Regions from separate parts of the Homo sapiens genome. Here regions 1, 2, 3 and 4 are each linked to region 5. The links come from fine-mapping of genetic effects on gene expression. A gene starts in region 5. Each other region holds a variant in brackets. All regions are shown on one strand. Distances are between the middles of the regions.

Region 1 (5,820 bases), 360 kb after region 5:
CAAGTGATCTACTTCAGCCTCCCAAAGTGCTGGGATTACAGGCTTGAGCCATCACACCTAGTCATAAGGACAGATTTTTTGAGATAGAGCAAAGCCATATATAGAAGTGTATATAAATTCCATATATAGTATGATTTCATATATATACAAAATATATACCTTTAACTGAATAGCTGAGAAAACAGCATCAGAATATTAGGTGATTTTCGTAATCTGGAGGAAAAAAAATGTGTCCTGTAAGTAAATTAAAACCGCTTTGAGTGATATAAACTTCATTTTGGTGGCGATATTGGTCCACAAAAAATATTTGATGAAACCTAGAAGGCATGGGCGACTCAAGCAAGCATAGAGCCAAAAAATATGTAGGAATTAGAGTGAGTGGGTATGTTTTGTACTAAGAGGAACTGAGTATTTGAAAGCAGTAAAGAAAGGAGATGGATTGGAGCTGCTAGTGTCGGGAGAGGCAGCTAGAAGCGCAGTCCCCAGGGAGTGGGGAGAATGACCTGGTCCAGCCTATTGGTTACTTATTGATTCAGAGGAGAGACTCCCATCGTCTGGAAAGAAAGTAAAAGGAGAGATCCACTGCTTGATGGAATGCACTAAGGGGTGTGTGTGTGTGTGTGTGTGTGTGTGTGTGTGTGTGTTTTGTTTTGTTTTTTAAGACAGAGTCTCACTCTGTCACCGTGTGTGTGTGTGTGTGTGTGTGTGTGTGTGTGTGTGTGTGTGTTTTGTTTTGTTTTTTTTTAAGACGGAGTCTCACTCTGTCACCCAGCCTGGAGTGCAGTGGCGTGATCTCGGCTCACTGCAAGCTCCACCTCTCGGGTTCATGCCATTCTCCCACCTCAGCCTTCCCAGTAGCTGGGACTACAGGCGCCTGCCACCACGCCCAGCTAATTTTGTTTTTGTATTTCTAGTCGAGATGGGGTTTCACCATGTTAGCCAGGATGGTCTCGATCTCCTGACCTCGGGGATGCTCTGAGATTCTGAGCAGTGTATTGAGAGGCTGATGGCTTGCTACTTTGTGTCTGATTTTTCTCTATTAAAAATAGAAGCTATTGCTTTAAGACCGAGTAGATGCTGTTGTTTTGTGGACTTTATGCCATGTGTTTTTTTTCAGTGAGACAGTACTCTGTCAGCTCAACTTCTTGGAAGCACAGTTGGTTTCTATTTGTACTCTTTTGTACCACTTCTTTTTCTACCTGGTTTATAATTCTGTGACCTCTTTTAGGTTGGACTCGGTTGTTTACAAGCAATTTTTTTTTTTTTTTTTGAGATGGAGTCTCCCTCTGTCACCCAGGCTGGAGTGCAGTGGCCCAATCTTGGCTCACTGCAGCCTCCGCCTCCAGGGTTCACGCGATTCTCCTGCCTCAGCCTCCCAAATAGCTGGGACTATAGGCACCTGCCACCACAACTGGCTAATTTTCGTATTTTTAGTAGAGATGGGGTTTCACCATGTAGGTCAGGCTGGTCGTGAACTCCTGACCTCAGGTGATCCGCCTGCCTCGGCCTCCCAAAGTGCTGGGATTACAGGCGTGAGCCACTCAGCCCAGCCTGTTTACAAGCAATTTTTAACATTTTAAGTTTTCAAATTCACACCAGAGACCAGATAGAATTTTTTTCCGTTGTCTTCAAGTTGTAGCATCAAATTATATGCTACAAAATCCTGGAGACCCCAAAGATTGTTTTTCCTCTACCAATTTTATTATTGAGGATATTTAAATAGTCTGGGATTATGTAGTGACTCTGGCAGGGTCACCACATTTACATTCACAGCATCTCAATTTTTTGTTCTTTGATACCTTTTCTGAGAATGTCACTCTGAAGTAAATTGGGCTTTTTGTATGTTCCCTAGCTCCAGACATCTGGATTATCATTCCCTTTGCAGGGATACTAACTTTTGGGGCTTTTCAGGGACTGAAAAACTTCTCTTAAAAAGTTTTTTTCTGGGGGCTGGGCACGGTGGTTCATGTCTTTAATCCCAGCACTTTGGGAGGCCGAGGCCGGCAGATTACCTGAGGTCAGGAGTTCAAGACCAGCCTGACCAACATGGAGAAACCCTGTCTCTCCTAAAAATATAAAATTAGCCAGGTGTGGTGGCGCATGCCTGTAATCCCAGCTACTCGGGAGGCTGAGGCAGGAGAATCGCTTGAACCCAGGAGTCGGAGGTTGTGTTCAGCCGAGATTGCGCCATTGCACTCCAGCCTAGGCAACAAGAGTGAAACTCCATCTCCAAAAAAAAAAAAAAAAAAAGAGAAGAAAATCTTAATGGGGAAACAGTAATAGTATAAAGTTAAATTGCAAAATCTAATTCTGTGGGTCAAGGGTGGGACCTGAAGTTCTGTGTTTTTAAGAAGCCAGTGCTGCTGGTCCTCAGACCATACTTTGAATAACAAGTACAAAGTTGTGCTGTCCGGTACGGAAGCCCCTAGCCTCATGTTGCTGTTGAGAATTTAGAGTTTCACTGGTTCAAATTAAGGTATGCTGTAAATGTAAGATATAGCTGGGCACGACGGCACATACCTGTAATCACAGCACTTTGGTAGTCTAAGATGGGACAATAACTTGAGGCTGGGAGTTCAAGACCAGCCTGGGCAACACACCTCTACAAAAAAAAAATTACAAAAAAAGAAAACATTAGGCCGGGCGCAGTGGCTCACACCTGTAATCCCAGCACTTTGGGAGGCTGAGGTGGGGGATCACGAGGTCAGGAGATCGAGACCATCCTGCCTAACATGGTGAAACCCCGTCCCTACTAAAAATACAAAAACAAAATTAGCTGGGAGTGCTGGTGGGTGCCTGTAGTCCCAGCTACTCAGGAGGCTGAGGTGGGAGAATGGCATGAACCCGGGAGGCGGAGCTTGCAGTGAGCCGAGATCAAGTCCCTGCACTCCAGCCTGGGCGA[CAG/C]AGGGAGACTCCCTCTCAAAAAAAAAAGGCTGGGTGTGGTGGCTCACACCTGTAATCCTGGTACTTTGGGAGGCCAAGGCGGGCGGATCAGGAGGTCAGGAGATAAGAGACCATCCTGGCTAACACGGTGAAACCCCGTCTCTACTAAAAGTACAAAAAATTAGCCGGGCGTGGTGACAGGAGCCTGTAGTCCCAGCTACTTGGGAGGCTGAGGCAGGAGAATGGCGTTAACCCAGTAGGTGGAGCTTGCAGTGAGCTGAGATCGCGCCACTGCACTTCAGCCTGGGCAACAGTGCAAGACTCTGTCTCAAAAAAAAAAAAAAAAATTAGAGGCCAGGCACGGTGGTTTATGCCTGTAATCCTAGCAATTTGGGAGGCTGAGGCGGGCAGATGACTTGAGCCCAGGAGTTCGAGACCAGTCTGTGCAACATGGTGAAACCCCACTTTTACTAAAAATACAAAAAAATTAGCCTGGTGCCTGGTATGAACCTGTAGTCCCAGCTACTCGGGAGGCTGAGGTGGGAGAATCACCTGAGCCCAGGAAGTCAAGGCTGCAATGAGCCATGACCATTCTGCTGCACTCCAGCCTGGGCAACAGAGGAAACCCCGTCTCAAAAAAAAAAAAAAAAAGAAAAGAAAAGAAAATTAATTGAGCATGGTGGCATAAACTGTAGTCCTAGCTACTTGGCAGACTGAGGCAGGAGGATCACTGGAGCCCAGGAGTTGGAGGTTACAGTGAGCTGTGATCCTACCACTGCACTCCAGTCTGGGCAACAGAGCAAGTCTGTGTCTCAAGCATAACAATTTTTTTTGTTAGTTTTGTTTTTGTTTTGTTTGTTTGTTTTTGAGACAGAGTCTCGCTCTGTTGCCAGGCTGGAGTGCAGTGGCGCGATCTTGGCTCATTGCAAGCTCCACCTCCCAGGTTCACACCATTCTCCTGCCTCAGCCTCCCAAGTAGCTGGGACTATAGGCATCCGCCACCACGCCCGGCTAATTTTTGTATTTTTAGTAGAGACAGGATTTCGCCATGTTAGCCAGGATGGTCTGTATCTCCTGACCTCATGATCCACCTGCCTTGGCCTCCCAAAGTGTTGGGATTACAGACATGAGCCACCATACCCGGCCAACAATTTTTTAAATTGATGAAACCTTGAAATGATATTTTGGACATACCAGGTTAAGTAAAATAGATTACTAAAATTAATTTCACCAGGGTTTTTTTTTTTTTTGTTTTTTGTTTTTTTTTTTTACTTTTTAATATGAATTTTTTTTACTTAAAATTACATATAATGTGGCTTATGTTTGTGGCTTGCATTATATTTCTATTGAACAGTGCCAGCCTAGAGAATTTATATTCTAAAGATAATCTGTCTGAACAGTACTGAGTATATAAAATTAATTATAGTTAGGATTATGCTTAGTCTTTTACAATCAGAGGTATAAATGGGATTTTTTTTTTTTTTTTTTTTTTTTTTTTGAGACAGTCTCGCTCTGTCTCCCAGGCTGGAGTGCAGTGGCGCAATCTCGGCTCATGGCAAGCTTCGCCTTCCGGGTTCACGCCATTCTCCTGCCTCAGCCTCCCGAGTAGCTGGGACTACAGGCACCCGCCACCACTCCTGGCTAATTTTTTGTATTTTTTAGTAGAGATGGTGTTTCACCGTGTTAGCCAGGATGGTCTCGGTCTCCTGACCTCATGATCCACCCGCCTTCGCCTCCCAAAGTGCTGGGATTACAGGCGTGAGCCACCACGCTTGGCCTAAATGACATCTTATAATAAAAATACTAGCACTTTGCTCATTTTTAATTTATAGGTGAATTATAAAGCATTCTACAAATGTTCTTTGATCCCCACCTTCTGCGGTAACATTTTTTTATATTTGTCCCCACTGTCATGGAACAGCATAGTAAGAAGCCTTTGCATTGGATGTTGTTGTATTTTTCTCTTGGTTGTTGAGAACAAGGGACTAATGAAAGAAAGAAGGTAATGGAAGAATAAACCAAACTGGCAATCCAACAACCTCGGGAGTTTACCTTGAGCCTTGTTTTTTTCCAGGCAGATGGTGGGGTTTGCTGAATCTGTCCAAAAGTATATGTTGCTTCAAGCCCGGCTTTTGCCCTTAAAGAGCTTTCACACCCAACTGGGAAAATAGATCGTTTTGAGAAAATTTTAAGTGCTAAACTGTGTCCTTATTTTATCAGAAACACATTTGGAGCAAAGTAGTGGCCACAAGAACCTCAGAAAGCTTTGTTGTGCCAGGGATGAGCTGGTGTTGAGAGGAGTGGATCAGACGTAAAGTACAGAGTGAAGACAGGGAGATGACAGTAGGAACTGTGTCTGGATGAAAAGACAGCTTGACTGAAGGGGAGAGTGCTAGAGGGCAAGACATAAATCTGAATAGGTTATCATGGGGTCAGGTACGAAGGGGCTTTGTGAGCCAGAAGGGTGGTAAGTGCATCATGTAGTTTTTGCAAAAGTAGAGACACACTTTTTGAGGAAATTAAGTCTTCTTCTTTGTGAAATGAGTGAATCTTTACTTCTCTGCCCAGAAAGCATAAGTGGTTTTCCATTGCCAGTCATCTGAGGTATTTTGTTATTCAAGACCATCCAAACTATGGGGGGCAACCAGCACATCTTTCACCTGTCTTACTACCCTCTCCTCTGTCCTGTGCTTTAAGCCAGTTCTTTTTCTTACTCATAACTAATTCCCACATGTATTTATTGTACCCAGAAATCCAAACCTTTCCCCTACAGAATACATCCTCTGCCCTCCACTGTCAAACTCTGCCTTTAAATGTCCTGCTCACGTTTCAGGGTTCCGTTCAAATTCCACATTTATGAAGCATTTTTCTATCACACCTGGTTATGTTATCTTTCTCCAAACCTATGTAATTTCACCTTGAACCATTGTGCTACCT
Region 2 (5,820 bases), 290 kb after region 5:
CTGCGCCAGCCCTGGATCCCGCTGCGTGGGAGAGGGCTTCGGGGATCCGACTGGTACTGGACACCCCCCCGATCACCCGCAGGGAGCCCCGCGCGGACTCACTCTATGATGTCCCTGTCGGTGCGGCCGCAGCGCCGTCTGCTCAGCGCCCGGGTCAATAGGAGCCAGTCCTTCGCAGGCGTCCTCGGCAGCCACGAGCGGGGGCCCAGGTACGCGGCCGCGCAGGGTTGGTGGGGTCAAAGGGCGTCAGATGGGGCTGGGTCTGGGGGTGCGTAGTGAGAGTCTGGGGGACTCCTGCTCTCCTCTTTCTGAGGACAGCCTCTCCTTCAGGAGTTTCCCGGTCTTCAGCCCGCCGGGGCCCCCACGGAAGCCCCCCGCGCTCTCCCGAGTGTCCAGGATGTTTTCCGTGGCTCACCCAGCCGCCAAGGTGCCGCAGCCCGAGCGGCTGGACCTGGTGTACACGGCGCTGAAGCGGGGCCTGACGTGAGCAGCTCCTCTGTTCCCAGCCCTGTCCCGGGATCCCTCCCCAAGCCCGCATCCTGCTAGCAGGAACCTTCTCCAGCCCCATGCCCTCTCCCTGCTGTCTGCACCCTGGGCAGCATGAGGCTGGAGAGCCGAGTTCATTCTTGTGGTCGCCCCTTTCCTCAGGGCCTACTTGGAAGTGCACCAGCAGGAGCAAGAGAAACTCCAGGGGCAGATAAGGGAGTCCAAGAGGAATTCCCGCTTGGTGAGTGGCGGGAGGTACGGATGCCCTTTGCCTCTTTGGTGTGGAGGGCTGGGCAAGGGCAGCCCTGGGTGATATCTGGGCTATTTTCTGAAGTGATCTGGTTCAGGTGTGAGTAGAAAAGGGGATATCAGGAAAGGCTGAGGGGCTTTTCTATCCCCAAACTTTGCTGTGCATACTTTCTGCTTGGGACTCAGTACCTGCTCCAGGAGCTTCCAGTGGGGTAGGTGGGACCCCTACAGACATGGACAGCAGGAGATTCTGCTGCAGTGGTACTGAGCAGTGGTACTGCTGCATGGTGCTTCTTGGGAAGAGGTTAGGGCTTCCTGGAGGAGGGAACACTTCTGCCGGGGCTTGATGGGAGTTCCCCTGCAGAGGGAACCTTGCACAAGGAAGCAGAGAGCTCTCCCCAGGCGGCTGCAGGAAAAGGAATCCCAGGGAAGAGGTGGAAGGAGGGGTCCTGGAGGGGGCTGAAGGGACCAGATCTGTGCTACCAGCATCCACCAAGGGCTAGACCAGCAGGAAGGGGCGTCAGTTGCTACTGTGACAGGAGTGCTTGTGGACTGTGGTGTGAGAAAGGGGAGCTGTGACGAGTCTGAGTGCCTCTGCTGGAGTCCTCCTCATCCCTCCTAAATATTTGCCCCTTCTCCCCACCCCTGCAGGGCTTCCTGTATGATCTGGACAAGGTGAGTATGCATGGAATGGTACTGGAAGGGGTTGGCTCACAGGGAGGGTAAGGACCCTGGGCCTCAGGCCCCTCCTGACCCACCTCTCCCCCAGCAAGTCAAGTCCATTGAACGCTTCCTGCGACGACTGGAGTTCCATGCCAGCAAGGTACGAGTGCAGCATGTGTGCAGAGTGGGGTGGGGGGTTGGATATCATAGGGAGAAGAGGGGTGGTGCCAGGCCCTGGGTGAGCAACCTTAGAGGTGAGTAACCCCAGAGGTGAGTCTCAGTCCCCCTACTGTCACCCCACTCACCTTCCCAGATCGATGAGCTGTATGAGGCATACTGTGTCCAGCGGCGTCTCCGGGATGGTGCCTACAACATGGTCCGTGCCTACACCACTGGGTCCCCGGGAAGCCGAGAGGCCCGGGACAGCCTGGCAGAGGCCACTCGGGGGCATCGCGAGTACACGGAGGTGAGGGATGGGGGCCCATGAGGCAGAGGCACAGGGTGTGGCAGGGCTAGTGGCTGGCCCTTGACCCCCTCCTGTCCCTGCCCCTCCCTCCCAGAGCATGTGTCTGCTGGAGAGCGAGCTGGAGGCACAGCTGGGCGAGTTTCATCTCCGAATGAAAGGTACTGAGTTGTGGGGGCAGGTGGGGGGCTGGAGGGAGTATGCTGAAGAACCCCAATATGGCTCACCGACTTCTCCCCTTCTCCTCCAACTCAGGGCTGGCTGGCTTCGCCAGGCTGTGTGTAGGCGATCAGTATGAGGTATGAGAATGTGCAGGGAAGGGCTGGGTCGGTAGGGTCCCAACACCTAGGCTGCCTCATCCTACCTGTTCCCCCAGATCTGCATGAAATATGGGCGTCAGCGCTGGAAACTACGGGGCCGAATTGAGGGTAGTGGAAAGCAGGTGTGGGACAGTGAAGAAACCATCTTTCTCCCTCTACTCACGGAATTTCTGTCTATTAAGGTGATGTCTCTGCCCAGGACGGCAGGCCACCATGGCCCTGTGAACCCCTTGTGACCCCCATTACCCTGAGTCCCTTACTCCTGTGATCCCCTCATAGCTCCATAGCCCTGTGAAGATATGATTCCATGACCTTCATGATCTCTGTGGCCCTGAGAGGAACAATCTTTGTGACTCTTAGGACATCATGGCTTCCTGACCCTGTGACCTCCTCATGATCTTCTGACCCTGTGAATATTTGACCTCCTAAGCTCCCATGAGGCTGTGACCTCTATGACCTCAGTGACCCTACCATGCAGACCTCTGTGATTCCCATGCTCCCAGGCTGCTTCAAGCATCCATGGCTCCATGAGCATGCATGTGTCTGTCTATCTATCTAGGAGTTGGCGGGTCTCACTCTGTCACCCAGGTTGGAGTGCAGCAGTGCAATCATACCTCACTGCAGTCTCAAACTCCTGGGCTCAACCCATCCTCCCACTTCAGCCTCCCAAGTAGCTGGGACTACAGGTGCACCACCATGCCTGGCTAAAAATTTTTTTTTTTTTTTTTTTTGAGACAGAGTCTTGCCATGTTGCCCAAGCTGGTCTTGAACTCCTGGCCTTAAGTGATCCTCCT[G/A]CCTCAGCCTCCCATGACCATTTTATAAGTTCTATGCAAATTCAGACCTCAGATTTCCCATGATCTCATAGCCCCTGCACCCTTGTGACCCTACCATGCACTCTTGGCTACAGGTGACAGAACTGAAGGGCCTGGCCAACCATGTGGTTGTGGGCAGTGTCTCCTGTGAGACCAAGGACCTGTTTGCCGCCCTGCCCCAGGTTGTGGCTGTGGATATCAATGACCTTGGTACCATCAAGCTCAGCCTGGAAGTCACATGGAGGTTGGTGGGGCTGAGAGGCTTGGAGGAGGGCCAGGAGGGCTGTGGCACCTGCCAACAGCCTCTTCCCTTCCCAGCCCCTTCGACAAGGATGACCAGCCCTCAGCTGCTTCTTCTGTCAACAAGGCCTCCACAGTCACCAAGCGCTTCTCCACCTATAGCCAGAGCCCACCGGACACACCCTCACTTCGGGAACAGGCTTTCTATGTGAGTCATAGCCCAGGTCCAGGCCTCACCATCCCCCAGAGGCTCCCTGGGGGTGGTTCTGAAATGCCCTCTCCTCTTTCTCAGAACATGCTGCGACGGCAGGAGGAGCTGGAGAATGGGACAGCATGGTCCCTGTCATCTGAATCTTCAGACGACTCATCCAGCCCACAGCTCTCAGGCACTGCCCGCCACTCACCAGCCCCTAGGCCCCTGGTGCAGCAGCCCGAGCCCCTTCCCATCCAAGTTGCCTTCCGCAGGCCTGAGACCCCCAGCTCTGGGCCCTTGGATGAGGAGGGGGCCGTGGCCCCAGTCCTGGCAAATGGGCATGCACCCTACAGTCGGACTCTGAGCCACATCAGTGAGGCTAGTGTAGATGCTGCCTTGGCTGAGGCTTCAGTGGAGGCCGTTGGCCCAGAAAGCCTAGCCTGGGGACCTAGCCCACCTACACACCCAGCTCCCACCCATGGAGAGCACCCCAGTCCTGTTCCTCCTGCCCTGGACCCTGGCCACTCTGCCACAAGCTCTACCCTCGGTACAACAGGCTCTGTCCCCACATCTACAGACCCTGCCCCATCTGCACACCTAGACTCAGTTCATAAGTCCACAGACTCTGGCCCTTCAGAACTGCCAGGCCCCACTCACACCACTACAGGCTCTACCTATAGTGCCATTACCACTACCCACAGTGCTCCAAGCCCCCTCACTCACACTACTACAGGCTCCACCCACAAGCCCATAATCTCTACCCTTACTACTACAGGCCCTACCCTCAATATCATAGGCCCAGTCCAGACTACCACAAGCCCCACCCACACTATGCCAAGCCCTACCCATACCACAGCAAGCCCCACTCATACTTCCACAAGCCCCACCCATACCCCCACAAGTCCCACCCACAAAACCAGTATGTCACCTCCCACCACTACAAGTCCTACCCCCAGTGGTATGGGCCTAGTCCAGACTGCCACAAGTCCCACCCATCCTACCACAAGCCCCACCCATCCCACCACAAGCCCCATCCTTATAAATGTAAGCCCTTCCACTTCTCTAGAACTTGCTACCCTCTCCAGCCCCTCCAAACACTCAGACCCCACCCTCCCAGGCACTGACTCCCTTCCCTGTAGTCCCCCAGTCTCCAATTCCTACACTCAGGCAGACCCTATGGCCCCCAGAACTCCCCACCCAAGTCCTGCCCATTCCAGTAGGAAACCCCTCACAAGCCCTGCCCCAGATCCCTCAGAGTCTACGGTTCAGAGTCTAAGCCCCACTCCCTCACCCCCAACCCCTGCACCCCAGCATTCAGACCTTTGCCTGGCCATGGCTGTCCAGACCCCAGTCCCAACGGCAGCCGGAGGGTCTGGGGACAGGAGCCTGGAGGAGGCACTGGGGGCCCTAATGGCTGCCCTGGATGACTACCGTGGCCAGTTTCCTGAGCTGCAGGGCCTGGAGCAGGAGGTGACCCGCCTAGAAAGTCTGCTCATGGTGAGGAGGGCTGGGCTGGGCTAGGGCAACCAGGGAGGGCAGCCAGGGGGCGGCAGCCGCTCTGATGCCCTTCACAACCTCAGCAGAGACAAGGTCTGACTCGCAGCCGGGCCTCCAGTCTCAGCATCACTGTGGAGCATGCCTTGGAGAGCTTCAGCTTCCTCAATGAAGACGAAGATGAAGACAATGATGTTCCTGGGGACAGGTGAGGGGGCTAGGCAAGATGGGTGTGAGGCTAGGTGAGAGGGAAAAGGTGAGGCAGGACCAGGGGAAGGTGGAACAGGTGAATTGGGAGAAAGTCAAAGGACAGGACAGGTGAGGCAGGGCCAGGTGGAGCATGTGAGGACTGAGTTGCTGGCAGGTGCACCTGTGTCCACCCCTCCCATGTCCTTCATGCCCATGTCTCCAACCCTACGTGTGTCCCCAGTGCTTCTGACCGCCCTCTTCATCTCTGCAATGTCTGCCTCCCCTGCCGGTCCCCATCAGCTTGGGTGCCTCCAGCCCCTCCTCTTCCCCTTGGCCTCACCTTGGACCTGCCCTTTAAGGAGCTCTCTCAGTGTCTCGCCGTGCACCCTGGGACCCCAGCACTGCCCCACTCCTTCTCAACCCCGACTCTCCCAGAGGCCCTGGCCCCTCAACTGTCAGTCCTGGAGTGGCCTTTGCTGGTTCCCAGTTGAGAGTTGTGCCAGGTCCCTCCTTCCTCTGCTGCTGCCCAGGCTACAGCCCCATGCCCTGCACCCTTTGCAGTCCACTTGTCATAAACCATCCCGCCTGCAGCCTACTCCTACCCATGCCATCCCCAGTGGTCCCAGCTGGAGGTAGCATGGCGCAGACTGACTCCAGAGATCCCTACTACCACCTGCTGGTCCCAGCCCCTTCCTCCTTCTGGAAATCCTC
Region 3 (5,820 bases), 320 kb after region 5:
TAGGTATGGGGTTTTGTCATGTTGCCTAGGCTGGTCTCAAACTCGTGGCCTCAAGCAGTCTGTCTGCCTTGGCCTCCCAAAGTGCTGGGATTAGGTGTGAGCCACCGTGTCCAGCCCATTTTTTTTAAACACCTGTAAACTTTCTGTAGTCTGTCTTCGTATCTTTCCTGCTAGTATCTTTGTGCATTTTCTCAGTGATTTAATATTTGAATGCAAAGTTGTGGCATTGCATATAGACTGCCAAAATACAGTCCAAAGGTGAGGGTTAGGATGGTATTCTTTCACACTTGATCCTTGTTTTTGGTCACTCTTGGAATTTTCAGGGGTAGAAAATTTCATTCCCTTTGAGGTATGCTGGTAATAATAATGGACTCCAGTATGGAAGTGTTGGTTGGACTAAATATGCTAATCACCTATTTGTGTTACTAAAAATTGCCTCTCAACAGAGGAGACTTTAGCTTCATCTAAGTATTAGTGAGTTTTGTGGAGTTTAGCTAATTGTGAGATGGATTTCCTCTTAGAAGATGTACCTCATGTGCCAAATTGCTTGGAAACTTTTTTTTTTTAATACATTTTGATTGAGGCAGTGGCATGATCATAGCTGTTGCCCAGATAGGAGTGCAGTGGCATGATCATAGCTCACTGCAGCCTTGAACTCCTGGGCTCAAGCAGTCTTCCTGCTGCAGCCTCCCAAGTAGCTGGTACTATAGGCGTGTGCCACCATGCCCAGCTGATTCTTTTATTTTTTTGTAGAGACAGGATCCTACTATGTTGCTCAGGCTGGTCTTGAACTCCTGGGCTCAAGCAAGTCTCCCACCTCGGCCTCCCAAAGTGTTGACGTTACAGGTGTGAGCCACCATACTCGGCTTTTTTTTTTTTTTTTTTTTTTTTTGAGACAGGTTGTCACTGTGTTGCCCACACTGCAGTGCAGTGGTGTGATCATGGCTCACTGCAGCCTTGTCCCCCACCTGCCCCAAGCGATCCTCCCACCTCAGCCTTCCAAGTAGCTGGGACCACAGGCACACAACACCATGCCTGGCATATATATGTATACGTGTATATATATATATTTTTTAAGATGGAGTTCACTCTGTCTCCCAGGCTGGAGTGCAGTGGCATGTTCTGGGCTCACTGCAACCCCGGCCTCCCAGGTTCAAGTGATTCTCCTGCTTCAGCCTCGGGAGTAGTTGGGATTACAGGTGCCTGCCACCGTGCCGAGCTAATTTTTGTATTTTTAGTAGAGACGGGGTTTCACCATGTTGGCCAGGCTGGTCTGGAACTCATGACCTCAGGTTATCCACCCACCTCGACCTCCCAAAGTGCTGGGACTACAGACGTGAGCCACCATGCCTGGCCTTTTTTTTGTTGTTGTTCTTCTTCCCTGAGACGAAGTCTTCCTCTGTCACCCAGGCTGGAGTGCAGTGGTGCGATGGTGGCCCACTGCAACCTCCGTCTCCCGGGTTCAACCAGTTCTCCTGCCTCAGCCTCCTGAGAAGCTGGGATTACAGGTGCATACCACCATGCCCAGCTAGTTTTTGTATTTTTAGTAGAGACTGGGTTTCACCACGTTGGCCAGGGTGGTCTCGAACTCTAACCTCATGATCCACCCGCCTGGGCCTCCTAAAGTGCTGGGATTACAGGCGTTAGCCACTGTGCCCGGCCTGCCTGGCTAATTTTTATGTATTTTGTAGAGACGGGGTTTTGCCATGTTGCCCTGACTGGCTTTGAACTCCTAGGCTCGAGCAGTCCTCTGCTGTGGCCTCTCAAAGTGCTGGATTGCTGGTGTGAGCCATCACACCTGGCTATATTATTTGGAAACTCTTTTTTTTTTTGAGACTGAGTCTTGCTCTGTTGCCCAGGCTGGAGTGCAGTGGTGTGATCTTGGCTCACTGAAACCTCTGCTTCCTGGGTTCAAGCGATTCTCCTGCCCCAGCCTCCTGAATAGCTGGGATAACTGGCACACACCACTACGCCTGGTTAATTTTTGTATTTTTTTTAGTAGAGACAAGGTTCCACTATGTTGGTCAGGCTGGTCTTGAACTCCTGACCTTGTGATCCGCCTGCCTTGGCTTCCCAAAGTGCTGGGATTACAGGCGTGAACCACTGTGCCTGGCCTATTTGGAAACACTTAGTTCAAATTTAGCTCTTTATTTCATTTGGGATTTTATTTTATTCTTTTTTTGAGACAGAGTCTCACTCTGTCGCCAGGCTGGAGTGCAGTGGCACGATCTTGGCTCATTGCAGCTCCGCCTCCTGGGTTCAAACGATTCTCCTGCCTCAGCCTCCTGAGTAGCTGGGTTTACAGGCCTGCACCACCATGCCCAGCTAATTTTTGTATTTTTAGTAGAGACGGGGTTTCACTATGTTGGCCAGGATGGTCTCAATCTCTTGACCTCGTGATCCGCCCGCTTTGGCCTCCCAAAGTGCTGGGATTACAGGTGTGAGCCATTGTGCCTGGCCTGGGATTTTCTTTCTTTCTTTCTTTCTTTTTCTTTAGAGGTAGGTTCCACTCTACCTTTGCTTGAAGCTTGACAGTTCATTTTGTAATTTAGGGTGAAAAGATGCCATCTAACAAAGTATTCCGTTATTCGACTAAAAAAACTGTTTCATTGCTATGCTTCTAGGATTTTCAAAGGTCAGTAAAAGCTCCTTTTGCCAGTTATCTTTTTTTTTTTTTAATGAGACGGAGTCTAGCTCTGTCGCCCAGGCTGGAGTGCAGTGGCGCGATCTCGGCTCATTCCAACCTCCGGCTCCTGGGTTCAGGCGATTCTCCTGCCTCAGCCTCCTGAATAGCTGGGATTACAGGCGTGTGCCACCACGCCTGGCTAATTTTTGTATTTTTAGTAGAGATGGGGTTTCGCCATGTTGGTCAGGCTGTTCTCAAACTCCTGACCTCAGGTGATCCACCTGCCTTGGCTTCCCCAGTTATCTTACTAAACTGGAAAGCATAGCCTTTACTTGTGGCATGAACAAACTTAATCAGTAAGACCACTACTTGCTAAAGATACGGAAATAAACTGTTAGAGAGCCATTACTGCAGCCATAAGAATTAATTTTTTTTTTTTTTTTTTGAGACGGAGTCTCGCTGTGTTGCCCAGGCTGGAATGCAGTGGCAGGATCTCGGCTCACTGCAAGCTCCGCCTCCCGGGTTCATGCCATTCTCCTGCCTCAGTCTCCTGAGTAGCTGGGACTACAGGCACCCGCCACCACACCCGGCTAATTTTTTTCTTTGTATTTTTAGTAGAGACGGGGTCTCACGTGTTAGCCAGGATGGTCTTGATCTGCTGACCTCGTGATCTGTCTGCCTCGGCCTCCCAAAGTGCTGGGATTACAGGCGTAAGCCACTGCGCCCAGCCAATAATTAATTTTTTGGTAGTTTGAATATGTGTGCCATTATTTGGTTGCAATATTGCAGTGGAGTGTTTT[G/C]TTTTGTTTTTTTTTTTGAGACGGAGTCTCGCTCTGTCGCCCAGGCTGGAGTGCCGTGGTGCGATCTCGGCTCACTGCATGCTCTGCCTCCCAGGTTTGCACCATTCTCAGCCTCCCAAGTAGCTGGTACTACAGGCGCCTGCCACCACACCCGGCTAATTTTTTGTATTTTTAGTACAGACGGGGTTTCACCATGTTAGCCAGGCTGGTCTCGATCTCCTGACCTCGTGATCTGCCCGCCTTGGCCTCCCAAAGTGCTGGGATTACAGGCATGAGCCACCGCGCCTGGCCTTTTTTTTTTTTTTTTTTTTTGAGACAAGATCTCTCACTCTGTCAAGCAGGCTGGAATGCAGTGGCACAATCTCAGCTCAGTACAGCCTCAAACTCCTGGGTGAGTCTCCCACCCTGGCTTCCGAAAGCGTTAAGATTACTGGTGTGAGCCTGGAGTACTATTTTGCTACTTAGAAACCTTTAGTCCTTTATATATTTAGCAAATGTGTGAAAAAATAAATGAATGTTTTGTTATTGGCTTGATGGTGGACATTTATGGAATGGCTCGGTTAGTGACATGACATGAACAGGTGTTTTGTTTCTTTCCCAATTTTTTCTGTCTTCAGTTTTCCCTCATTTTTTTTCATACTATATGCGTATTTGTATGAATTTAGTGTTTCATAAAATGATTTGTGCTTTTCTTTTAGAATGATTACGGACCTGAAGCCAAAGAACAAGATGCGCTAGTGGACAGATTGCTGACCAGGGGCTTGAGAGCTGGGTTCTATTTTCCCTCCTCAAACTGACTTTGCAGCCACGGAGAGGTAAGTGCTATTTCCATTTTTTCTATCTTAAAAATGGTAGTAATATAACCCTCCTGGAGTTGGAGGATTTGTTGGCTAATTCTTGAATATAGGGGATGCAGGATATCAGGTGATTGAGAGCATACAGGCTTCATAATCAGAGTCCTGGGTTTGAAACTCTTTACGATGATATACTAGCTGGGTAATATGGGGCAAGTTACTTTAACCTGTCTACTCCTGTAGTCCTCACTTGTGAGAGAATAACACCACCAATCTCAGAGACTATTCTCCGTTAATGAGAATGTGTTTTGTAAAGCTTTAAGTACTATTCTGAACATGTACATAGAAAGATCCCAGGAAATTGTGGCTGCTTTTCTGTAGAAACCCTTGGAATGTGTATTTTGACTATTGGCAAATGAACTGAAAAGAAAGTCCATGACCTGTGGCTACTTGTAATTTTGATAAGAAACAGATGGAATCCTGTTCTTGGGGAACCTGGTATCCTGGATAAAAATTGTCTTAATTTGAGTTAGCCTAGCTCATTGCCCATTTTGCGTCAGAGTGTGACAGTGATTATCATTTTAATTTAGCCTGTAATTTTTGCTATAAAATATAATGGACATTATATGGAACTTGGAACAGACCTTCTATAAATATTGGAATCTACTATGCTTTGGGATCTCATAAACAACAAAGTGGGATTCTGGTTGTAAAAATTATCTCTTCTCACGGTACCGGAAAGCACATTTTTTTCAGACCCTAGAAAAATGTGAAAATAATTTAATCGTACATGTGTAATGGCAAAAAGGAATGTAGAAGTGGAAATTACAAATGCCAGGATTAGATAAGCTTATGTGAATGAATCATCTAAATGACTACTAAGATTTTTCTTACAAGCTCTGCCTGGAGCAAATAAAGAGAAGGGAATAGGAATGAAAGTTCTGTTATTCTTCAAACCTTTATTTTCCAAATGGGCAACTTGTTATCCTGCTAGATGGGAAGGAGAAGGTCTGTGGTAGTATTCTGTCACTCCAAAAATAACTTACGCCCTGCAGGTTCTTTTAGGAGTGTTGACACAGAGTGCATACCAAAAGTTGCTGATTTAAAAACTATTGAGAAATCGAACCTTTAAGAGTTTAGGGAATGGGTTTATAGGAACACGTTAATCACTTTCAAGTGTTATGACTAGCTTAATTGCTTAGATCCCTGTTTCTCAAACTGGGATATGAATACCCTTAGGGAATCAGGTGGTATGATTTCGGGGTACTTGGAGTCACAAGAAAGATAAACATGACCCATCTTCCTAGAACTTCAGTTATAGTCATAGAGGAGGTGGTGAGTTAAGTAATTTAACTGGTCAGTGATTAAATATTAAATATTGGCCAGGCACGGTAGCTCACACCCAGTACATTGGAAGGCCAAGGCCTCCAAAATCCCAGTAATCCTAGTACTTTGGGAGGCCAAGGCAGGTAGATCACTTGAGGTCAGGAGTTCCAGACCAGCCTGGCCAACATGGTAAAACCCCATCTCTACTAAAAATATAAAAACTAGCCGAGTGTGGTGGTGGGTGCCTGTAATCCCAGCTACTTGGGAGGCTGAG
Region 4 (5,744 bases), 75 kb before region 5:
GGGCCCCACTCCTGCTGGATGTCCAGGCGGCCTTGGGAGGCCCAGCCCTGGGCCTGCCTGGGGCTTTAACCATTTATAGCACTCCTGAGAGCCGGACTGCCTCCTACTTGGGCCCGGAAGCCAGTCCCTCCCCCTAAGACCCCGCGCCTCTGAAGGGGCTTGGAACCAGTCCGCCGCTGCACATCCTTCTTGGCTTCCTGGCGCCCCCTATCGGGGGTGAGCGAAGCCCCCACTACTAAATGGCCTCTCTCCACTACCCCGACTATCCCTGCACATAAACTCCGTTTTTTTTTTTTCTGTTTCTGGTCTCTTTTCTCTATCGACCAGGGAGCACAGGAGTTATGGGTGGGGGGTGATTTTGCATTTGTAGAAGCGTCCAGATACTAGGTTTTTAATAGAGGAACCCCAGGAGGGTGGAGGTGCTTGGGGATCCGGTGCCTAGCTCCCTTGCTTAGGCCCGGGTCCAGGGCTGGCGCGGGGCCGCTGCAATCTCTGGGAAGCGGGGGCTTCTGGGTCGCGCTCAGCTCTGCAATGCATGCGTTCTGTGATCCTGGTGAGTTGGTATCCTTCTCTGAACTTCCTCTGTGACAGGCAGAGAAGAGGGGTCGATGACAAGATAGATGGAAAGCACCTGGAAATTGGCAGGCCCTGAGTGGGCGCTGGACGTGTGGGGCCGCGGGCCGAACTGCCCCCTCCTGGCCTCATCTCCTGGTGCGCCCCGGGTGGGGAGGGAAAGCTGACTACATGCACGTCCCCAGCCAGCGCGCGGCCTCCGCGGTGTGGCTCCTAGTGCCCGGGGAAGAACCCTCACCCTCCCTATTCCCAGCAGCCCTGGCCGCCCCGCCCCCGCCGCAGCTGCTGCACCCACCCCCACCCTGCCCGGCCCTTTCTGCACCGTCATCTCCTGCCCCGCCGAGGCTTGACCCGTGAGTGGGGACGCCCAAAACGGGCCAGACCGGGAGCCCCACTCCCGGCTGTGGGAGGGAAGGGAAACCGAGATTGGGCAGAATCAGCGCCCCACCACCCGCTGCGGCGCTCGGGGGTCGGGGGGGCGGGGTGGGTAGGACTGTGGGCCCCGCCCTGCCGCAGGACTCTCAAGCTCTGGGACTGGGTGGAGGGAGGTAAGGGGCGGGGGGGGAAAATCCGTGCAGTCGCACATGCGCAAAGGCTCTTCACTGTCCCAAGACCCTGGCTTCCTGGCCAAAGAGCCCGCGCAGCGAGGTGGGGTTGGGGGCTGGGACCCAGCTCCGTGCCCCGCCACCTGGCTCTCTGGGAAGAATCGGACCTGTCACCCTCGAAGGACTGGCCGCTAAATAACTTCGGTATTGAGAGCTGTGTGAGCCTCAAAGGGAGGGCCCAGACCAGCTGGAGTCTCTACCCCCAGACAGGATAAAGGGCAGGACTTGGGGTCATAGGAGGAGGCGGCTAACATGAAAACAACTTAGGTTGGAGAGAAGGAGGGGCCAATCCAATCTGCACCCTCCCTGTGTCTGTCCCGAGTAGGTGCTGTCCCCCTCTCCCTTCCTTTGCCCACCGATTGGAGGGACACTCTGGAAAACTCAGTTGAAGAAAGCGGAGAGTCTGCGTGTACACAGTGCAATGATGTCAGTTAATGCACTAGTGAGGGCATGTGTTGTTCACGGTACACAGAAGAAGGAACCACCAGCCCTTGGGACACTTAGGCATTGGTGTAGACAAGGGAACATTTGAGTCCTGGACGATGGATAGGTCCACGGAGCGGAGGGAGGAGAAAAGGATTCCAGTCTTAGCGATCAGCATCAGCAAAGGCTCCGAGGTGCCAGAGGCATAGTGAGTTCTCCGATCCCTGGCTGGTGGAGGGAAGCTGGGAAGGGCCTGGCTGTCCAGGGTGGTGGGAGGAGGCTAGAGTAGCCAGACCAGATATTTTGGGTTGTCTCTGATGGGCAGTGGGGTGTGGGGGGGAGGTAGATAGGTATTTAGGATGGAATTCTGCTAGACAGGAAAATATAGTTCAGTTCCTCATAGTTCAGGCTGGAGCAAGTAAGATTCCAGTTTTACCACTGAATCTCTGAGCCTGTCTCCTCATCTGTAAAATGGGAACAGCAATCCTAGCCCAGAGGGTTGTCAAAGTCACTGTGCTATCGGGCCTGGCAGAATGGGAGTGAGAGGGGCTCAGAGGGACTGTTACAGGACATGAGGTGACGATGGTGGGGTGGCAAGGCAGGAGCTGATGGAGACTCACTGAGAAGTGGAGAAGCAAGATTCATCACATACGGGACATAAAGGGAGATGGAGGGGCAGGGGGTAGTCCTGGTCTCGGCCTGGTGGGGAAGGGCTTCAATGGGAGGAAGCCAGGGTGTGAAGTGACGGGGGAGGTATAGTGTGACACCAGAGGGTACTGAGAAAGACCTGGGAGGCAGGATGGCGGCTAGGACTAAATCCTCTCTCCCAGAGAAGGCCGAGCCTCCTAGAGCCAGAGAAGGAGGCAGAGGAGGGACAGCAAAGGGAAGAAGAGATGGGAGGATGCCGTGTGAACAAAGCCAAGGCGGGGAGGAGAAGAAGTTATTATCAGGGTGGGGGTGGGCTGAGGGCATGGTTCAAGGCCTGATGTCTTTGCCTCCTAATGCCGGGGGTCTTGCTGGCTGGGTCAGGCCACTCACAGGAATGGGCCATAATCCTTGGTTGACAATAAATGGACAAAGCAGCTGGGTGCGGTGGCTCATGCCTGTAATCCCAACACTTTGGGAGGCCAAGGTGGGTGGATCACGAGGTCAGGAGTTCGAGACCAGCCTAGCCAACATAGTGAAACCCCGTCTCAACTAAAAACACAAAAAATTAGCTGAG[C/T]GTGGTGCGGGCACCTGTAATCTCAGCTACTCGGGAGGCTGAGGCAGAAGAATCGCTTGAACTCAGGAGGCAGAGGTTGCAGTGATGAGAGAATGTGCCACTGCACTCCAGCCTGGGCAACAGAGTGAGACTCTGTCAAAAAAAAAAAAAAAAAATGGATAAAGCAGATTGACTCTCCCTAATAGCCGCTGTTGGTAGAGATAGTCTCTCAAGAGCCAGGCATGGTGGTTCACATGGTGGTTCACAAAGTGCTGGTAATCCCAGCACTTTGGAAGGCTGAGATGGGAGGATTGCTTGAGGCCAGCAGTTCGAGACCAGCCTGATCAATATAGCAAGACCAGGACAGGCGCGGTGGCTCACGCCTGTAATCCCAGCACTTTGGGAGGCCAAGGCAGGTGGATCACGAGGTCAGGAGTTCAAGACCAGCCTGGCCAACATAGTGAAACCCCGTCTCCACTAAAATAAATAAATACAAAAAATATATATAGCAAGACCCCACCTCTAAAAAAAAAAAAAAAAAAAAAGGCTGGGCACGAGAATCACTTGAGCCTGGGAGGCGGAGGTTGCAGTGAGCCAAGATTGCGCCACTGCACTCCAGCTTGGGCAACAGCGAGACTCCATCTCAAAAAAAAAAAAAAAAAAGTCTCTCAAAATAGTGCGATCCATGGAGGAAAATCAGTCCAAGTTCGGCAAGTATTTGTCGGTATCCTGTATGAGCTAGGCCTTGGGTACTTCAAGATCAAACAACAAATGTCTGTAGGTAATTCCCAGGTCAGCAGGGAGCCAGGTGGGTCAGCAGAGAGACAGTCACATTAGGAGTTAGGGCTTCAGTAGGGAGACAGGTGGGTCTCAGGTGATGTCAAGAGATCTTGGTCAGAGCTAGGCCTGAAGAAGATTCTGGTATCTCTGCTCAGGAATCAGGGGACCAGGAAGGGCCAGGAGACTACATTGGGGTTGCACTATGGTGGTGGTGTTGGTGGGAGGGTGTAGAGGCGGGGCTTGTCCTGGAAAGTTGGATATCAGGGTCAAGGTAAGGGGAGAGGGGCAGGGAGGCTCTCAGCACTTTGTGCTCTGGGTTCAGAGGGGACTGGAGGATAGAGTATGGAAGCAGGGAGCTCTGATCCTGGGTTCTGCAGGGCCAAAGCAGGAGGCAGAAGGCTGGACTTAGTAAGTGGTGAGGATGGTGAGAGAAATATTCAGCAGTCAGACTGGAAAGGACTTGTCTGCAAGCTGGGTGTGGAGTATCAGCATCAATCCTAGGTTTTTCTGCCTGGTTAGGTGGGGAAGCAGATTTGAGAGAAAGACCTTAGTTTGGATAAACGGGGTCTGAACTCGCCTCGGATTTGCCGGGGGTGGAGCTCAGGACGTCCTGGTTGGGGAGGGCATTCAGAGAGTAGATGCCAGTCCTGGGAAAGGCAGGGGAGGAGAGGAGAGCCACGGCTGACGCTTGGGGACAGAAGGAGGAGCCTGAGGAGGAGACAGGACAGAGCGTCTGGAGAGGCAGGAGGACACCGAGTTCCCCGTGTTGGCCTCCAGGTCCTGTGCTTGCGGAGCCGTCCGGCGGCTGGGATCGAGGTGAACTTAAACCCCAGCCTGGGTGTTCACTGGGGGCATTGAGGGAGTGGTCAGAGGCGGCGAGGGCAGCGGGGAGGGCAACCCCCCATTACTTCTCTCCCCTTTCCCCATGCAGCCCCGACAATGGGCAACGCGCAGGAGCGGCCGTCAGAGACTATCGACCGCGAGCGGAAACGCCTGGTCGAGACGCTGCAGGCGGACTCGGGACTGCTGTTGGACGCGCTGCTGGCGCGGGGCGTGCTCACCGGGCCAGAGTACGAGGCATTGGATGCACTGCCTGATGCCGAGCGCAGGGTGCGCCGCCTACTGCTGCTGGTGCAGGGCAAGGGCGAGGCCGCCTGCCAGGAGCTGCTACGCTGTGCCCAGCGTACCGCGGGCGCGCCGGACCCCGCTTGGGACTGGCAGCACGTGGGTCCGGGTGAGCGCGCGGGGCGGGGCCTAGGGCAGAGCAGGGACGGGGCTGGGGCAGACAAAAGGCCCGGGGAGGGCAGGGTTGTCGTCTCCGCTAGAAGTAGGCGAGTGTGAAACCGCACAGGGGTAAATTGAGCCTCAGTCACTCCCACTTCCGCCCCAGGCTACCGGGACCGCAGCTATGACCCTCCATGCCCAGGCCACTGGACGCCGGAGGCACCCGGCTCGGGGACCACATGCCCCGGGTTGCCCAGAGCTTCAGACCCTGACGAGGCCGGGGGCCCTGAGGGCTCCGAGGCGGTGCAATCCGGGACCCCGGAGGAGCCAGAGCCAGAGCTGGAAGCTGAGGCCTCTAAAGAGGCTGAACCGGAGCCGGAGCCAGAGCCAGAGCTGGAACCCGAGGCTGAAGCAGAACCAGAGCCGGAACTGGAGCCAGAACCGGACCCAGAGCCCGAGCCCGACTTCGAGGAAAGGGACGAGTCCGAAGGTGTGAGTCCGCCCAAACCCTGAGCCGGCTTGGCGGGAGGGCATGGCCTGGGAAGCGGATGCCGGACCCCACCTCTTTGACCACTGTTCCCGTCATCTCTAGATTCCTGAAGGCCAGAGCTCTGACAGGCGGTGCCCCGCCCATGCTGGATAGGACCTGGGATGCTGCTGGAGCTGAATCGGATGCCACCAAGGCTCGGTCCAGCCCAGTACCGCTGGAAGTGAATAAACTCCGGAGGGTCGGACGGGACCTGGGCTCTCTCCACGATTCTGGCTGTTTGCCCAGGAACTTAGGGTGGGTACCTCTGAGTCCCAGGGACCTGGGCAGGCCCAAGCCCACCACGAGCATCATCCAGTCCTCAGCCCTAATCTGCCCTTAGGAGTCCAGGCTGCACCCTGGAGATCCCAAACCTAGCCCCCTAGTGGGACAAGGACCTGACCCTCCTGCC
Region 5 (5,820 bases):
GTCAGAGGCTGTGGCCAGGAGCTTCCTCCTAGTCTAGGAGGAAATGAGCAAGGCTTTCTGAGATCTGAAAGCTCTTTAAAAAGGAAGCCCCCAGGGGAACTCTAGGGGCTAGGCTCGGCCCAATGGGGTGTGTGGGTGGAGTCCCAGGGAGAAAGCAGGCTGGCCTCTGTACATCCCCAGGGAGGGGGGTCATCTGCTGGGATGATCAGGGCCAGTACCCGGGGCCAGTACCCAGAGGAGGACAGAGGCCACTTGGCTGTGTCCTGTCCTCTGCTGGACAACTGTACATAGGACGAAGCAATGAGTAAAGAACCCCTTCCTCTTATTTCTGCCCTACAGCTTGGGACAGGGATGCCCTGGTTTCTGGGCCACCTCTTCCCTCTAGAGGGCCAGCAAGACAGGCCTGAGTCATGTCTGTGACTCTGGGGCACCCACTTATAGGACTACGGGAGGAACCAGCTGTTGACATTTCCTGCAAGGAGGGGCCCTGCTCCCCCTTGCTCAGCTCTCTGATGTCCCTGTCTCTGCCCTATTCTCAGCCCCTCTTCCTCCAGCCTTCTATTCTGGGGCTGTGGTCATAGTTTATATTTGGGTTGAGCACATCACAGTGCATCTGACCATTCCTGGCAGAGTTGCTAGCCCCAGGGAATCCTGGCTTCTGGCATTGTGGTAACCTAGTGTGCCACCTCCATATCCCTGTGGGGGAGGGAAGGCAGTCCTCAGGTACTCCAGGTGGGAGAACATGAAATCGGGGAGACCAGGAAGGACTGCATTGGGGATGAGGAACTTATATTCTTCACCGGAGCTCAGTAGTGTCCTCAGCTAAGGAGCAGGGAACACAGGGCAGAGCACCTGGTAGGGTTGGGTGGGGACACGGGTCCCATGAGAGGGAGATAGAAGGAGTGGTTCTGAGCCTCTTTCTTGCAGCTGACTTCCCAGGCTTGCCCCCAGCTGGGAAGAGGTGTGTCAAGGGGCTGGGCATGGTGGCTCAAGCCTTAATCCCAGCACTTTGGGAGGCTTAGGCAGGCAGATCACCTGAGGTCAGGAGTTTGAGACCAGGCTGGCCAACACGGAGAAACCCTGTCCCTACTAAAAATACAAAAATTACCTGAGTATGGTGGCGCACACCTGTAATCCCAGCTATTTGGAAGGCTGAGGCACGAGAATTGCTAGAACCCGGGAGGTGGAGGTTGCAGTGAGCCAAGATAGCCCCACTGTACTCCAGCCTGGGAGACAGAGCCAGAATCCGTCTTAAAAAAAAAAAAATCGGGGGGGTGGTGTCAGGGCTAGGTCCAATCCTTGAGTTGCAGGATGAGAGGAATACAATATATTCTCTAGTGCCCCACCCTTATTTCAGGATCCGGACTTTAGGAGCCTGGAAGCGGGAACCAGTCTTAGTTCAGCACTCCTGTCTTCCCAGCCCCCATCCTGAATGGGAGGTGGCCTCCAGCTGCACACGCTTCTTCCAGGCACACCTCAATTTGCCCCTCTGAATAGGGCAAGAGAAGCGGGGGCTGAGTCAAAACTGGCGGTGAGCAGTGTCCTGCATCCTTCCAGCCATGGCCTTGAAGCCGGGGTTCTGGCCTGGACACGTGCCACTCTCCAGGCCAATAGTCTCACCACCCCTCCCGCCAGCGCTCAGAGGCGGGGCTGGCCGCAGCGCGAGGAATGCGGGCTGGGGGCCCGGGGCACATTCCAGGGAAGACCCCAGGCCCAAGGGGCAAGTTTACGCAACTCGCCGCCCAGCTGAGGCTGGGAGCAGGGGAGGGCACCCACCCCGACTCTCTCTCCTCTTCTCCAGCACTGGAGGCGGCCGGGCTGGTGGGGAGCTTGTGGAGGTGGTAGTGCGCCTCCCAGAGTCCTGGCCCGGAAACAGCGCGCCGGAAAGGGCTGCCTGCGGGGGGCTGACGGCGGCGAGAGGGAGGGGAGAGGAGGTAGGCTGGCCATCTGGAAAAGGGCCTCTTTCCGCACTGTGCACAAGTCCGCTTCGGGGCGGCAGCAAAGTAGGGCAGGCCGGCTGTTTAAAATTAGTCCGGCCCTCCCTCTCACTTTCAGGCGCGGGCCGATGGGCGGCGAGTGTCCGGGGGTGGGGGCGGGAGCGGTGACTCAAAGGGCTTTTACACCCGTGCAGCCTCCTGCGCTCTGCGGATCCCGGGCCAGACCGCTTCGCGGGGACTCCCCTCACCCCGTGAAGTCTCTCCTCGGCCGGCACTCCCATACTCCCATTGACCTACAGGGTCAAGCCCCAATCCAGCTTCCTGACACCGCAGGAAACCTCTGCCACCTCTAGTAGTCCGCCTCGGGCCCGCCCCTCCTCGTGGTCCCGCCCCCACCTCACCTGAAGCAGGTGGAAGCTGGTCCCTCCCCAGCTCCGCCTCCAGGGTCCGCTACAGCCCAAGCGGCTACCGTCACTCTGACCAGGGAAGCCACCCTGGCAGACCGACGGCGAGTGGAACTCGAGCACCTCCCCAGGTGCGCCTAATTCGAAGGGCAGTCAGAATGGCGGAGCCAAGTTCCTGGCACCCCTCTTCAGTTTCCCCTCAACTTGAGAGGGGACTCCCCCGCAGGCGGGGCAGAGTGGACCCTGGGACCCCAGCCCAAGACTTTTCCGGAGAAGAACACTCGCTCCAGCCTCTTCCCGCGGAGCACCTCCCACCAGTTTTCATGGCGCCCACCCTGAACCCCCGATCGCCCCAACCTTTCTCCGGCCTCCCTCACCTTGAGCGGCGCTCCCAGCAGGCGGTGCACCGCGGGTATCTGCGCGCCCAAGGGCAGCGCCCCGTCCAGGCTGCAGGTGGGGGCCCGGCGCGGCTCCGGAAAGTTGGCACATGCGAAGGGGTCGGTGTCTTCCAGGTACTGCACCCTCACGGTCACCACTGATACCGGCTCTCCGTCCCCGCGGTCTTCCCCGCCCGCCATGGCTCTGCGGCCGGCTCACGCAGCGCGCCTCCGAGTCCCGGCCCCAGTGCAGCTTCTACTCAAAGCACACTGTAGCTCCGCGGTTCGGGCCCGGCCGGACCGGACGCGGCTGGAGGGGCGGGGCCAGACGGAGGCGGGGCCGAGGAAGGGGGTGGAGCCAAGATTAGTCCCCGAGTGCGCGCCAGGAGGTAACCACTGCCGGAGGCGGGGCCGCCGCTAGCCACTCACAGGGCCCAATGGGAATCCCGTTAGTTCACTGGCTAGGAGGGCGGGAAAAACCGAGCTCGCGCCCCACCTTCGAGAACGCGCAGAAGGCGGGGAGGCTTTCTTTGGTCTGGGGATAGTGAGGCTGCGTTCTCTTTGAGGGGTGTTAGGGCAGATGGGGCAGAAGTTTCTTTAGATAGTGGCCGGCCAGGTCTCTCTCAGTTGAGGGACAAGATAGCCCTCATTCCTTCCATTTGAGGGGTGAGTCCCTGTGGTTTCCTCATTTAGGGAAAGCAGTGAGAGGGGGTCCCTTCAATTTGGAGCAAGAAGTGAGAATAAATTCCACCCAGTTTGAAGGAAGAGGTGGGATCAGTTCCCTTTAGTTGTGGGAGGAAGAGGGAAGGATGCCCTTCAGTTTTCTGGGAAAAGATTGGGAGGAGTCAGTTTGAGGGGGCAGATAGAACACGTTCCCCTCAGTTTTGGAGAAAAAGTGGGATGGGTGCCCCTCAGCCTGAATGAAAAGTGGAGACGGTCCTCCTCTGTTTGGGGCGCTATGAGCCGAATGCCCCTCAGATTTGGAAAAAGTTGGGTGCATCTCGCCTAGTTTGAAGGGAATCAGTAGGCTGGGTTTTCCATAGGTTCCTGTCAGCTTCATCAAAGAGATGAGACAGTTCTCTGTAGTGTGACTGAAAGGGAGGGCCAGGTGCCCCTTGGTTTGGGAGATGAAGAACAGCCTCCCTCTTCGCCTGGCACGAGCTGGGCCAGTCTGGGCCTTAGGGTTTCTGGGACGTTGGGGGCAGCGTTGTCCGTCACTGCTTTGGGGAGCGTCCAGTGCGCGTGCGCAGCTCAGGTCCGGGTGGGGGCCGGCAGGGGGTCCTGGGCTTGGCAACGTGGGCGGAGGGCGGCCAAGCACGGTCCCCTGCGTTTTGCACCCGGCCGCGCCTTGGTCCCAGGGGGGTGCTGCTCGCCGCACAGCAGCGCTGGCCGAGGAGGAGCCGTGCCCCTCCCGTCCTGACCGCGCCCCCCGCAGACCCCCGCCCTTCCCGCTGCGGGCTGCCCCAGGGGGGCCGTGGCCGCGCACCGCTCTGGATCTGGTGGGGGCGGTTTTGGGGAGGTTTGGGGGCGCGGACTCGAAGGAGTAGGTTGTGGAACTTGGGGGAGAGCTGCACTGGGGAATTTCCGGAGCTGGGACTGATTTAGGGAGGAAAGAGGAGAGAGTCCCCGACTACGAGAGTCCGAGGCAGGGTCTCGGAGCCTGGACCTGGCTTGGGGGTATCGGAGCCGGGATTGGGGGGAGCGGGCCCCACGTGCCTGTGACGCGGGGGCGCCCGGTAGGTGGCGGCGGCGACGCGGGGCCGGCGGCCGTGCGGTGCCGGGAGGGCGGCTGGGCAGGCGGCAGGATGCTGCGCGCCGCCCTGTCCCTGCTCGCGCTGCCCCTGGCGGGGGCGGCCGAAGAGCCCACCCAGAAGCCAGAGTCCCCGGGCGAGCCTCCCCCAGGCTTAGAGCTCTTCCGCTGGCAGTGGCACGAGGTGGAGGCGCCCTACCTGGTGGCCCTGTGGATCCTGGTGGCCAGTCTGGCCAAAATCGGTGAGTGCGTGTGTGCGTGCGCCAGGCCGACCGCCAGCGGCGGACCCGCCCCCAACACCCCCACCTCCTCGGTCCTCAGATTGGGGCTGGCTTCTTGCACGGTGCTGGGACTTAGGTTTGGATTCCACAAATCCGGGCTCTCGCCCAGTTCCTGCATCGCTTCTTGTGGGTCCCAGGTCCCTGTCTTCTCCCCTGGGAGCTCTGAGGATTTGCCTTTCTGAAGGGCTGTCCCCCGCTCTCCCCAACTCCATCTGTAGGCTCCTTTGCCCTCTCCGCTCCCCTCTTCCCCTTGCAGTAGGCCCTCTTCAGTCTGGTCTCTCCCCCACCAATCCCTAGCCTCCCAGAAACCTCTGTCGCTGGTGAGGATGTGTGGGGACATTGAGGGGAGGGTGTTCTCCCAAGAACACAGGCATCCTGGTTCTGAAAAAGCAGCCTTCCCTGGAGACCATGTCCGAGTGTCCATTCCCTTGGGAAACTACACTGCCACTTTTCCTCCAGCTCTCCCCTGCTCCCCACTTAAAGCTGCTGCCTTCTTGTGCCTGTGTATGGGTACCCCCCCAACCCACGTTCAGGTCCACATTCTTCTCACTTCAGGGTATAAGAAACTTCCGTGTATCGGGGCCTTCCTGTGTGCTGTCTACCCTAGATGCTTTCATACATCCGACCTCTTCAGTCCTGACAGCATTGAAGGCTGTGCTTCAGACTTCTTTTTCCCTGAATAGAGCTGCTTTTCCTTGCATCTGCTCCTTCCTCCTCCCTTCTGAGCAGCCAGTGGTCCCTCCTCCCACCAGAGACCCTCCTCCTTCTCCCTGTTGTGCTGGCTCTGCTGTGGGGGTGACTAATTATAGCTGAGCGTTGCTACTCTCTCCCCATGGATGCTGGCACAGCCTGTACTCCAGTCTCACCAATACAGCCTTCATGGAGGAATCACCCAGAGCCTAGAATTTGCCCCTCTTCTCCCACATGGACACTGCTAGGGGGTGAGGGGGCTGGGCAGGAACAGAACTCTCCACTCTGCTGTGGCAGCCTGAGATTAATAATGGAAAGTGGAACTCAATATGCCTTCCGGGAGCGTGGTTCTGTGATGGGGCTTGGATCTCGGGGCTGGGG

Direction of the effects. Alleles are on the strand shown, and positions count from the first base shown. SD is a standard deviation of normalised expression in the study named. Not every link is listed here.
As copies of C replace T in region 4, the expression in lymphoblastoid cells of the gene that starts at base 2,990 in region 5 goes up (large effect, 1.0 SD a copy in TwinsUK).

The links.
Region 1: its variant is fine-mapped to the expression of FHOD1 in whole blood (TOPMed, PIP above 0.99).
Region 2: its variant is fine-mapped to the expression of FHOD1 in tibial nerve (GTEx, PIP 0.96). The same link has a PIP of 0.9 or more in whole blood.
Region 3: its variant is fine-mapped to the expression of FHOD1 in whole blood (TOPMed, PIP above 0.99).
Region 4: its variant is fine-mapped to the expression of FHOD1 in lymphoblastoid cells (TwinsUK, PIP 0.95).

The regions. Positions count from the first base shown.
Region 1 is chr16:67,600,612-67,606,431 of GRCh38, forward strand. The region is part of intron 2 of CTCF (CCCTC-binding factor); the gene reads left to right. Among named protein-coding and RNA genes, the nearest start is that of CTCF, 41 kb to the left of the region's middle. The variant CAG/C (reference allele first, on the strand shown) is at 2,903.
Region 2 is chr16:67,538,342-67,544,161 of GRCh38, forward strand. It overlaps RIPOR1 (RHO family interacting cell polarization regulator 1), which reads left to right. Exons shown (of 22, transcript NM_024519.4): 2 at 83-209; 3 at 331-483; 4 at 649-727; 5 at 1,387-1,410; 6 at 1,505-1,558; 7 at 1,712-1,864; 8 at 1,959-2,022; 9 at 2,117-2,160; 10 at 2,238-2,363; 11 at 3,089-3,237; 12 at 3,312-3,441; 13 at 3,526-4,923; 14 at 5,007-5,128. The coding sequence starts at 106. Among named protein-coding and RNA genes, the nearest start is that of RIPOR1, 12 kb to the left of the region's middle. RefSeq lists enhancers at 1-364, 113-182, 4,171-4,220 and a silencer at 4,411-4,460. The variant G/A (reference allele first, on the strand shown) is at 2,976.
Region 3 is chr16:67,567,024-67,572,843 of GRCh38, forward strand. CTCF (CCCTC-binding factor) reads left to right here. Exons shown (of 12, transcript NM_006565.4): 2 at 4,125-4,241. Among named protein-coding and RNA genes, the nearest start is that of CTCF, 7.4 kb to the left of the region's middle. The variant G/C (reference allele first, on the strand shown) is at 3,427.
Region 4 is chr16:67,169,649-67,175,392 of GRCh38, forward strand. NOL3 (nucleolar protein 3) reads left to right here and starts at 890. Exons shown (of 4, transcript NM_001276309.3): 1 at 890-926; 2 at 4,514-4,816; 3 at 4,973-5,296; 4 at 5,399-5,744. The coding sequence starts at 4,522. The coding sequence ends at 5,406. HSF4 (heat shock transcription factor 4) reads left to right here. Exons shown (of 13, transcript NM_001374675.1): 13 at 1-293. The coding sequence ends at 137. RefSeq lists enhancers at 487-636, 3,857-4,779 and silencers at 847-1,136, 2,777-2,940, 4,677-4,936. The variant C/T (reference allele first, on the strand shown) is at 2,824.
Region 5 is chr16:67,244,492-67,250,311 of GRCh38, forward strand. FHOD1 (formin homology 2 domain containing 1) reads right to left here and starts at 2,990. Exons shown (of 22, transcript NM_013241.3): 1 at 2,719-2,990. The coding sequence starts at 2,919. SLC9A5 (solute carrier family 9 member A5) reads left to right here and starts at 4,488. Exons shown (of 16, transcript NM_004594.3): 1 at 4,488-4,710. The coding sequence starts at 4,524. RefSeq lists enhancers at 183-232, 343-392, 1,165-1,824, 4,225-4,726, 4,727-5,226 and silencers at 1,928-2,027, 2,928-3,297, 3,940-4,029, 4,050-4,139, 4,440-4,549.